2 separate regions of the Homo sapiens genome follow, and region 2 is linked to region 1. The links come from fine-mapping of genetic effects on gene expression. A gene starts in region 1. The other region holds a variant in brackets. All regions are shown on one strand. Distances are from middle to middle.

Evidence for each region. PIP is the estimated chance that this variant, and not a neighbour inherited with it, causes the effect. A credible set is the group of variants that fine-mapping cannot tell apart.
Region 2: its variant is the best candidate, but not a certain one, in a credible set for the expression of PHTF1 in monocytes after LPS (Fairfax 2014, PIP 0.78).

The regions. Positions count from the first base shown.
Region 1 is chr1:113,756,867-113,761,257 of GRCh38, forward strand. It overlaps PHTF1 (putative homeodomain transcription factor 1), which reads right to left and starts at 2,620. Exons shown (of 19, transcript NM_001323043.2): 1 at 2,157-2,620; 2 at 1,793-1,867; 3 at 833-889. The coding sequence starts at 1,837. RefSeq lists enhancers at 1-214, 2,493-3,072 and silencers at 1,260-1,389, 2,023-2,342.
Region 2 is chr1:113,679,897-113,684,221 of GRCh38, forward strand. It overlaps MAGI3 (membrane associated guanylate kinase, WW and PDZ domain containing 3), which reads left to right. Exons shown (of 21, transcript NM_001142782.2): 20 at 1,302-1,440; 21 at 3,001-4,325. The coding sequence ends at 4,118. Among named protein-coding and RNA genes, the nearest start is that of PHTF1, 77 kb to the right of the region's middle. RefSeq lists an enhancer at 989-1,527. The variant A/AT (reference allele first, on the strand shown) is at 2,264.

The DNA of each region.
Region 1 (4,391 bases):
AACTTAAAACCATACTCTAGGCCGGGCGCGGTGGCTCACGCCTGTAATCCCAGCACTTTGGGAGTCGGAGGTGAGCAGATCACAAGGTCAGGAGATCGAGACCATCCTGGCTAACACAGTGAAACCCCGTCTCTACTAAAAATACAAAAAATTAGCCGGGCGTGGTGGTGGGCGCCTGTAGTCCCAGCTACTCTGGAGGTTGAGGCAGGAAAATGGCGTGAACCCAGGAGGCGGAGCTTGCAGTGGGCCAAGATCACGCCACTGCACTCCAGCCTGGACGACAGAGTGAGACTCTGTCTCAAAAACAAAACAAAACAAAAAAACAAACAAAAACACATACTCTAAGCCAGTGATTGAATAAAATGGGGGACCATAGGCTGGATTCAGGCCACAAATGGATTTTATTTGGCTTGCAAAGGAGGAGGAGGAAGAGAAGGAAGAGTCTCTTAAAAATCCGACACAAAATGCACAATATATTTCATATAAAAATGTGTATTTCCAGCTTCTCTTGAAAAATCTGAAACTCTGGCAATATTTGGACCTGCACTGCCAAGTGGTAAAAACTAGCCAGAGCTAAGTAACCCCAGCCCTATTTATATGGGACATTTGCTCTCTAATTCATCATAGAACAACTCACTCCTTTCTGTTTTCCTGATAGTGAGGCCAAAAATCAAGTGTCACTTCTCATTATGCTTGCACTGCTTTTCTTATAACCTTCAAAGATTAAAGAATGCCATACTGGTAGTTAAATGCAGAGTTTACCAGGTAAGTACAATTCCACTCTTCATATTAATGCAGTGAAACATAGGCGGAATCAAAGAAATCAATTTACCTTAATCTGAGTCTGTTCGATTGACTTTTCCCATATCTGCTGATCGTAGGCTCCAATCTGAAAGAGGGAGTAGTCTATTAGTTAAACGATGCAAAGGAAATCCTTACATTATTAAGTCAAGCCTCATAAAAGTCATGAGCCTATTAAGTATCAATATGCTATGTGGAAAATATGCTTCTCAAAAGTTAGAATAAATCAATACTTCGAAGGACTGTTTCCTTCAAAAATCTAAAATAGCTGGACCTAAAAGTAAGTTCAAAAGCAATGCCCAAAATATTTCAAATTAATATTACCTTAAAAGATATTTCCACTTCTTGGGCGGGCATGGTGGCTCACGCCTGTAGTTTGAGACCAGCCTGACCAACATGGTGAAACCCCGTCCCTACTAAAAATACAAAAAATTAGCCGGGCGTGGTGGTGGGCGCCTGTGATCCCAGCTACTCCAGAGGCTGAGCCCGGGAGGCGGAGCTTGCAGTGAGCCGAGGTCGCGCCATCGCCCTCCAGCCTGGGCAACAAGAGCGAAACTCCGTCTCAAAAAAAAAAAAAAAAAAAAAAAATCCACTTCTTAAGGAAAAGAGCACTAGAAAAACTAGAGAGGAATAAAAGATAAGGAACAGCTCAATAAGATTGTTGATAGTATCAATCTGAGCTGTGCACATACAGGTTTCATGTCTTTTTTGTTTTTAAGCAGTTTGATCAGAAGCAAACTTTCAAAGCATTGCGGTGGCATTGTGTATGCAGCCTGAAGGAGGTGGCTTGTAAACCTTATTCTGGGACCTGGAACCGGGTTTAAAAGACATAATGACCTTGTACATCTTTTTTTTTTTTTTTTCATTTATGTTGAAGTATACATGAACACCTGGCACTACTAAACTCGGGGGAAAGTAACATTATATTATTTGTGGGAGCTTTTTGCAGGAAGAATGCTTTACAAATAAAAAAAATATATATATGTATTACCTTCTTTTGGTACCACGATATAGCATCTCTCTCATTTGAGGCCATCTGTGTCTCCAGCCAGAGAATGGGATTTCACTGAAAATGAAGGAAAACCAATCGGTGAGTCCAGCTGCTGAAGGTTACTCTCCCAGTTTGGGTAGGACGCGAAAACCGCTTCTCTCAGCCTCTCCATGAGCTGCTCTTTCTCCAGCTGTTTGCCAGGGAAAACACAACAAACAAACAAAAAAAAACTGGCGCAGCGGCGACCGGAGAAGCCTCTGCAATATATCGGGCGAGCGTGTTCGTGGGTGCGGGGGAGGGGCAGGGGCCGCCGCTGGAGTCGCCCGGCACCCGCCTCCTTCGCTCGCCCGCGTCCGGCTCTCACCTAGTGCCCGTTGCCCCGCGGGCCGGCGCCCGGGACCTCCGTCCTCAGTGCCCGGGGTCCCACCGTGAGGCCGGGGGCGAGGCGGCGGGCCAGGCAGGCCGCATCTTCCCCTCCAGGCGGAGACGCCGGAGAGGCCGTTACCATGGAGACCGCGGAGGCCGCCCCAGCTTCGGAGGCAGCCGGCCGCCCAGCGCCCTGAGGGCGGCAAATCGATCGCCGGTCAGAGGCCGCCTACAGGGTCACGGACTGACCAGAAAATAAGCAGAGAATGAACTGGAAAATGAGGGGGATTAAAAGTGAAGGCCTCCAGTCGCCACGGCGACAGCAAAAGGCTTTGTGCCCAGCTGGAAAAGACAGGTGCAAAGGCCCCGGACCCCGAGAGCCCGGGAGCCCGGGAGGAGGAGGCGGCGGCAGCGGCGCTCGTCTTCTGCGGGCCGCGCCGGGATGCAGTGACTCAGCCGTCTGAGATCTGGGCTAGAGCCGCTCAGCCGACCACCGGGCAGCAGCCTTCGGCTTCCGCTTTCCGGCTTTCGCCGCCGAGGTGGCTCCGCCCCTGGCCCGGGGCCTTCCCGCCCAGCCTTGGTCCAGGCTCCGGGTCCGAGGGCCTGGGGAGTCGCGCGGCATATCGATGGCCAAGAGCAGCTCCCTCAGATCACCCTTCAGGCCTCAGCTTAAAAGTCACTTCCTCACAAACGACTCTCCCATCCAGCGGTCTAAAGGAGGTCGGTCCTGATACTCTAGTAGCTCACGTCTTTGTGGCACTCATTTTCGTGTTTCATGGCTTAATCTCTGTTCCCCAGTGGGCTGTGGGCTCCATGAGGTCAGAGACTGGGGCCTGGCACAAGCCTGGCACTTAGGTTCCCAATGTTTGTTGAGCGAACGAATCAATGTTTGCGTGAATTTACGCTGCCCTGGGAGGAAGGGCCAGGCTGCGGCTTAGTGACTCCCTTCCTCTCCCGCCCCTCAGCAGCTCTGGGTCTGGAGCTTTCTAGTGCTCAAAGGTGTAGGGGGAAAAGAGGAACAAGTATTGGGCAGTCACAGCTTTTTCCAAATTAGGGTAAAGTTAGGTGGCGGCAGGAACAGGTTAATTAGGGCCGATAGAGGTCAGGAGAAAGGAAAGAAAGGTTGAACCCTCAAGTGAATATTTAAGGATACGTTAAAAGGATTTTTAGGCTGCTTTTTTTTTTTTTTTTTTTTTGGCCATTAATGGAACACTGTCCCCTTACAGCCATTCTCCCCACCTTATTTGAAGCCGTGTTCTTGCTAGCCCACAGCGTGTAGCATCTGGGTCAGAGAAAGCTAATGACAGATGATAGCTTCACTTAAGAAAGCCTAAGAGGCGCTGTACTCAATGTTTTGCAGACATTATTTCTTCTTATCTATTGAGTGGGCACCAGGTGGAAGTTATCCCATTTCACGGATGAGGAAAATCGACTAAGCTAAAATAACTCCCACAGGACTAAGTTTTACAAATTACTTCACCCAGCCTGGGCGCAGTGGCTCACGCCTGCAATCTGGGCGCTTTGGGAGGCCTGAGGCGGAAATGTAGCTTGAGCACAGGAGTTTGAGACCAGCCTTAGCAACATGGCCAGACCCCGTCTCTTAAAAAAAAAAAATTAGCCGGGGGTGGTGGCGCGCACCTGTAGTCCCAGCTACTTCGAAGACTGAGGCAGGAGGATCGTCTGAGTCCACGAGTTCGAGGCTGTAGTGAGCTATGATTGCACCACTGCACTTCGGCCTAGGCAACAGAGACCTGTCTCAAATAAAGTAAAAATTATTTTACCCTTATTTTTATATTGCACACATTGGCAGTGGTTTCCTTCTGCTTTTGCTCCTTGACAGCTTTTCCTTTCCTTAGTGCTAAACATTACAATTCTGTTGAGCTTCAAGACAAATGGCCAACTTGAAAAAAGAGATAAATGACAAGTGAAAAACGTCGAATTTTGCACACGTAAATATTTAACCTCAATTACATTAATAGCAAAAGTACTTTACTTCACTGTTTGGCACACAGATTTTCAGGGAGTGTCTGGAGGAACTGAATCAGGTAAGAAGTATTAGAGAATAGTGGTAAGTAGTAAACCATTTTTCAGGTGCCCTGTTGGAAACTATTCAGTGCTTCCTGCGGCTACCAGCGAACAAGGTCTGAATCCTTGCTCCCAACCAATAATCTGTGATCTTAAGCAATTTATTCAACTAACAAGCCTGTTTTCTCACCTGTATTATGGAGATAGT
Region 2 (4,325 bases), 77 kb before region 1:
GTTTCTCCATGTTGGTCAGGCTGGTCTCGAACTCCCGACCTCAGGTGATCCACCAGCCTCAGCCTCCCAGAGAGCTGGGATTACAGGTGTGAGCCACCATCCCTGGCCCTGAGAAATGATTTTACACTAACATCACTAAGTTTATGCCAGTTACTGGTTTTAAATAAGTGTTCATATTAATCTATTCTCCAAGTTTAAGTTTTTAAGAATTTTAATCTATAAAGATGTCATTTATTCAAATACCTCATGTATGTACAGGACATAGCAGCAGTTCAAAGGAATGAGCAGTTCTCCCTGGAGGCCAGGAAAGGCTTCAAAGATAAGAGCCCTCTGCCCAGGTTTTAGGAGATATATTTAAAATTCAGCTCAAGTTTGAAAGTACCCTTCACATTCGGACATAGCTCTGTAGTATCATTTGGATTGTTGTTTGTAAAATGTCTAACATGTACCCAGTGCTCTCCTGCGAGAGTTGATAAGAGGACAGATGGCAGCAACAGGAAGAGACAATGTCCAGGTTTACTCACGCATAAAAACCCTACACAGCAAGTGCCCAGGTTTACTTATGAAAATCCTACACAGGGCCGGGCGCGGTGGCTCACGCCTGTAATCCCAGCACTTTAGGAGGCTGAGGCGGGCGGATCACGAGGTCAGGAGATCGAGACCATCCTGGCTAACACGGTGAAACCCCATCTCTACTAAAAATACAAAAAATTAGCCGGGCGTGGTGGCGGGCGCCTGTAGTCCCAACTACTCGGGAGGCTGAGGTAGTAGAATGGCGTGAACCCAGGAGGCGGAGCTTGCAGTGAGCCGAGGTCTCGCCACTGCACTCCAGCCTGGGCGACAGAGCAAGACTCCGTCTCAAAAAGCAAAACAAAACAAACAAACAAAAAATCCTACACAGGAAAGTTTTATATGGCTATTAAAGATCTGGGCATCTTCAAATCAAGAACCAAATTCTAGAATTTGATTAACATTCTAAATTTGATTTCTATAAATTTAGAAAATTCCAAATCTGATTCTAGAATTTGATTCTTGATTTCAAGATGTCCAGATCTTAGTTAGTAGCCATATAAAACTTTCCTGTGTAGGATTTTTGTGAGTAAACCTGAACATTGCCACTTCCTGTTGTTTGTTGTCATCTGTCCTCTCATCAACTCTCACATGGCAGTACTGGGTACACGTTAGGTATTTTACAAACGAAAGAATCACTTAGCAAGGTTGAATGGCTCAAGAGCTGACAAAAGCAGAATTTACAAAGGATGCATAGTTTCATGTTGTTCCTGTGAATGTTCTCTGTCTAGGTTGGTGACCAGATTGTTGAAATCAATGGGGAACCTACACAAGGAATCACACATACTCGAGCAATTGAGCTCATTCAGGCTGGTGGAAATAAAGTTCTTCTTCTTTTGAGGCCAGGAACTGGCTTGATACCTGACCATGGTAAGTAAAGTAGCCCACTAGTAGCTGAAAAGTTGTATATTAGGGAGGGGACAGAAGAAAAAGGAATATATATTTGGAGAGGATAGATATTTTACTAGTTAATTCAGAGGTGAATGCTAGAACCATGAAAAGCTAGTTACATAGCAGAGTTATCATAAATAGTATTAGAAAACAAGTGACTTAGGCAGGACTTTCGTTGGAATGGAATGTATTTTAAATTTAATCAGAAAAAACATATAGTTGTTTTTGTAGAGAAATGTACCTATTAAAAAAGTGTATTAGAGGCAAACAATTTAAATACCATAAAAAATGTTTTAAATCTCTTCAAAATATCCCAGCTTTTTCTCTTACTTAGCTAATTACACATTACCAACCAATATTTTTATTTCTGTAAAGCAAGATAAGTTTATATTATAATGAATGCGCAGCATGAAAACTTAGGCTTTTCTGGTGACTCGGCAAAAACAAGTTGCTATCACCCTACCTGGAGACAGGGAGTTGGACCTGAGACCATTTCTGTCCTGTATTAATGTTAAACTTCCTGGGTTTCCATGGCATGTTTTGAAATATCATGGTATTTGAAAGTCACTGTTTTTTGAGTGCACTATTCTAGAAATAAAGGCAGTACCACACCCACGCAGTACTTGCCTCATCTAGCTCCCCACCTCCTGCCCTACCCCACCCCACCCCACCGCTTTTGAGGGATAAGTGTAGACATAACCTCCTACAGTACCCTTCCAGCTTATGATTCTCTGACTGTATTATCTTCCACCATCTGCTTGTAAATCATATGTTCCCAGTGACATCTTTGCTAACTGCACTG[A/AT]TTTTTTTTTTTTTTTTCACATAGTCCTAGGCTTTTTCTCTTCCCTCTTCAGGTTTGGCTCCTTCCGGTCTGTGCTCCTACGTGAAACCCGAGCAACATTAAGGCTTTCAGGGCTTTTCTTGGTCTTTCCTTAAAAAGACTTGGTAAATTTGCATGTCTTGTAAATCACTTTCTTCTTTTGTTTTCTTTTAAATTAAAAATGATGCTATTAAATACATCTATTTCTATCTTCTGCACTTTTCAGTCTTCTTTTGACATTAAATTTGACAGCTTAATGCAAGAGAATTATTACAAATGCCCATGAGCCTCATTCTGGTTACCACAGTTTGGTTTCCTTTATTAATTAGTGATTTTGCCATATCCTAAACTGTATCAATTCATAATAATTAGTGAGCTTCTTGGGCCACGTAATTTGGTTCAGCTTTATAACTTGTAAGTTCTAATTGGGCTTTACTAATAGAGAATTTACAGATCATATATTATCTCACTAATTATATGTAATTGGAAAAAATGAATATTATTTTGTGTATATAAACAACCCATCCTTCATGTATGAACAGATGTCTGTACACATCCGCCTTTATAGAGAGATATGTTGTAAACATATACAAACTGTATAAAATACTCAGGCTTTTTAAGCAGTTACGACAATTCAAATGGCTGTCAAAGTTCAAAACGTATTGTTCCTATTTGTAATTCTAAAATTTAATAATGTTCCATTCAAATCACTTTTTTAGGTGATTGGGATATTAATAATCCTTCGTCTTCAAATGTGATTTATGATGAACAGTCACCATTACCCCCATCTTCACATTTTGCTTCCATATTTGAAGAGTCTCACGTGCCAGTAATTGAAGAATCTTTGAGAGTTCAGATATGTGAAAAGGCAGAAGAATTAAAGGACATTGTGCCTGAAAAGAAAAGCACTTTAAATGAAAATCAGCCTGAGATAAAGCATCAGTCTCTTCTCCAGAAAAATGTGAGTAAGAGGGATCCACCCAGCAGTCATGGGCACAGTAACAAGAAAAATCTATTAAAAGTAGAAAATGGTGTTACACGAAGAGGTAGATCGGTTAGTCCCAAAAAGCCAGCCAGTCAACATTCAGAGGAACATTTGGATAAGATTCCTAGTCCTCTAAAAAATAACCCCAAAAGAAGACCCAGAGATCAATCCCTCAGCCCCAGCAAAGGGGAAAATAAAAGTTGTCAGGTCAGCACCAGGGCAGGCTCTGGACAAGATCAGTGCAGAAAAAGCAGAGGTCGGTCGGCCAGCCCAAAAAAGCAGCAAAAAATTGAAGGAAGCAAAGCTCCATCAAATGCTGAGGCCAAATTATTAGAGGGTAAGAGTCGAAGAATAGCAGGCTATACGGGCAGTAATGCTGAGCAGATCCCAGATGGGAAGGAAAAATCAGACGTCATCAGGAAAGATGCAAAGCAGAATCAGTTGGAAAAAAGCAGAACAAGGTCTCCAGAGAAAAAAATCAAAAGAATGGTTGAGAAATCTCTTCCATCCAAAATGACTAATAAGACTACAAGTAAAGAAGTATCTGAAAATGAAAAAGGAAAGAAAGTAACCACAGGAGAAACAAGTTCTAGTAACGATAAAATAGGAGAAAATGTCCAGCTATCAGAAAAGAGGCTGAAGCAAGAACCTGAAGAGAAGGTAGTTTCAAACAAAACAGAAGATCACAAAGGGAAAGAACTAGAGGCAGCTGACAAAAACAAAGAGACTGGAAGGTTCAAACCGGAAAGCAGTTCTCCAGTTAAGAAAACACTGATAACTCCAGGGCCCTGGAAGGTTCCAAGTGGAAATAAAGTCACAGGCACTATTGGTATGGCTGAGAAACGGCAGTAACCTTTAGTATAAAACAAAGAAAAACAAGTTGTAATCTTTTCTTACAGCAGCATTTTTCCAGAAAAAGCCTTTTTTTTTTTTTCAGATATTCTGAAACAGATAAGTACATGTTAATGTGAGCCTCAAGTTACCTAGGCTGCATGAAGGGCCTTTAGGATTGCTAAGAACCAACTGTCCCCCTGGCCGGCTGCCCTCCCTCGCTCTCAG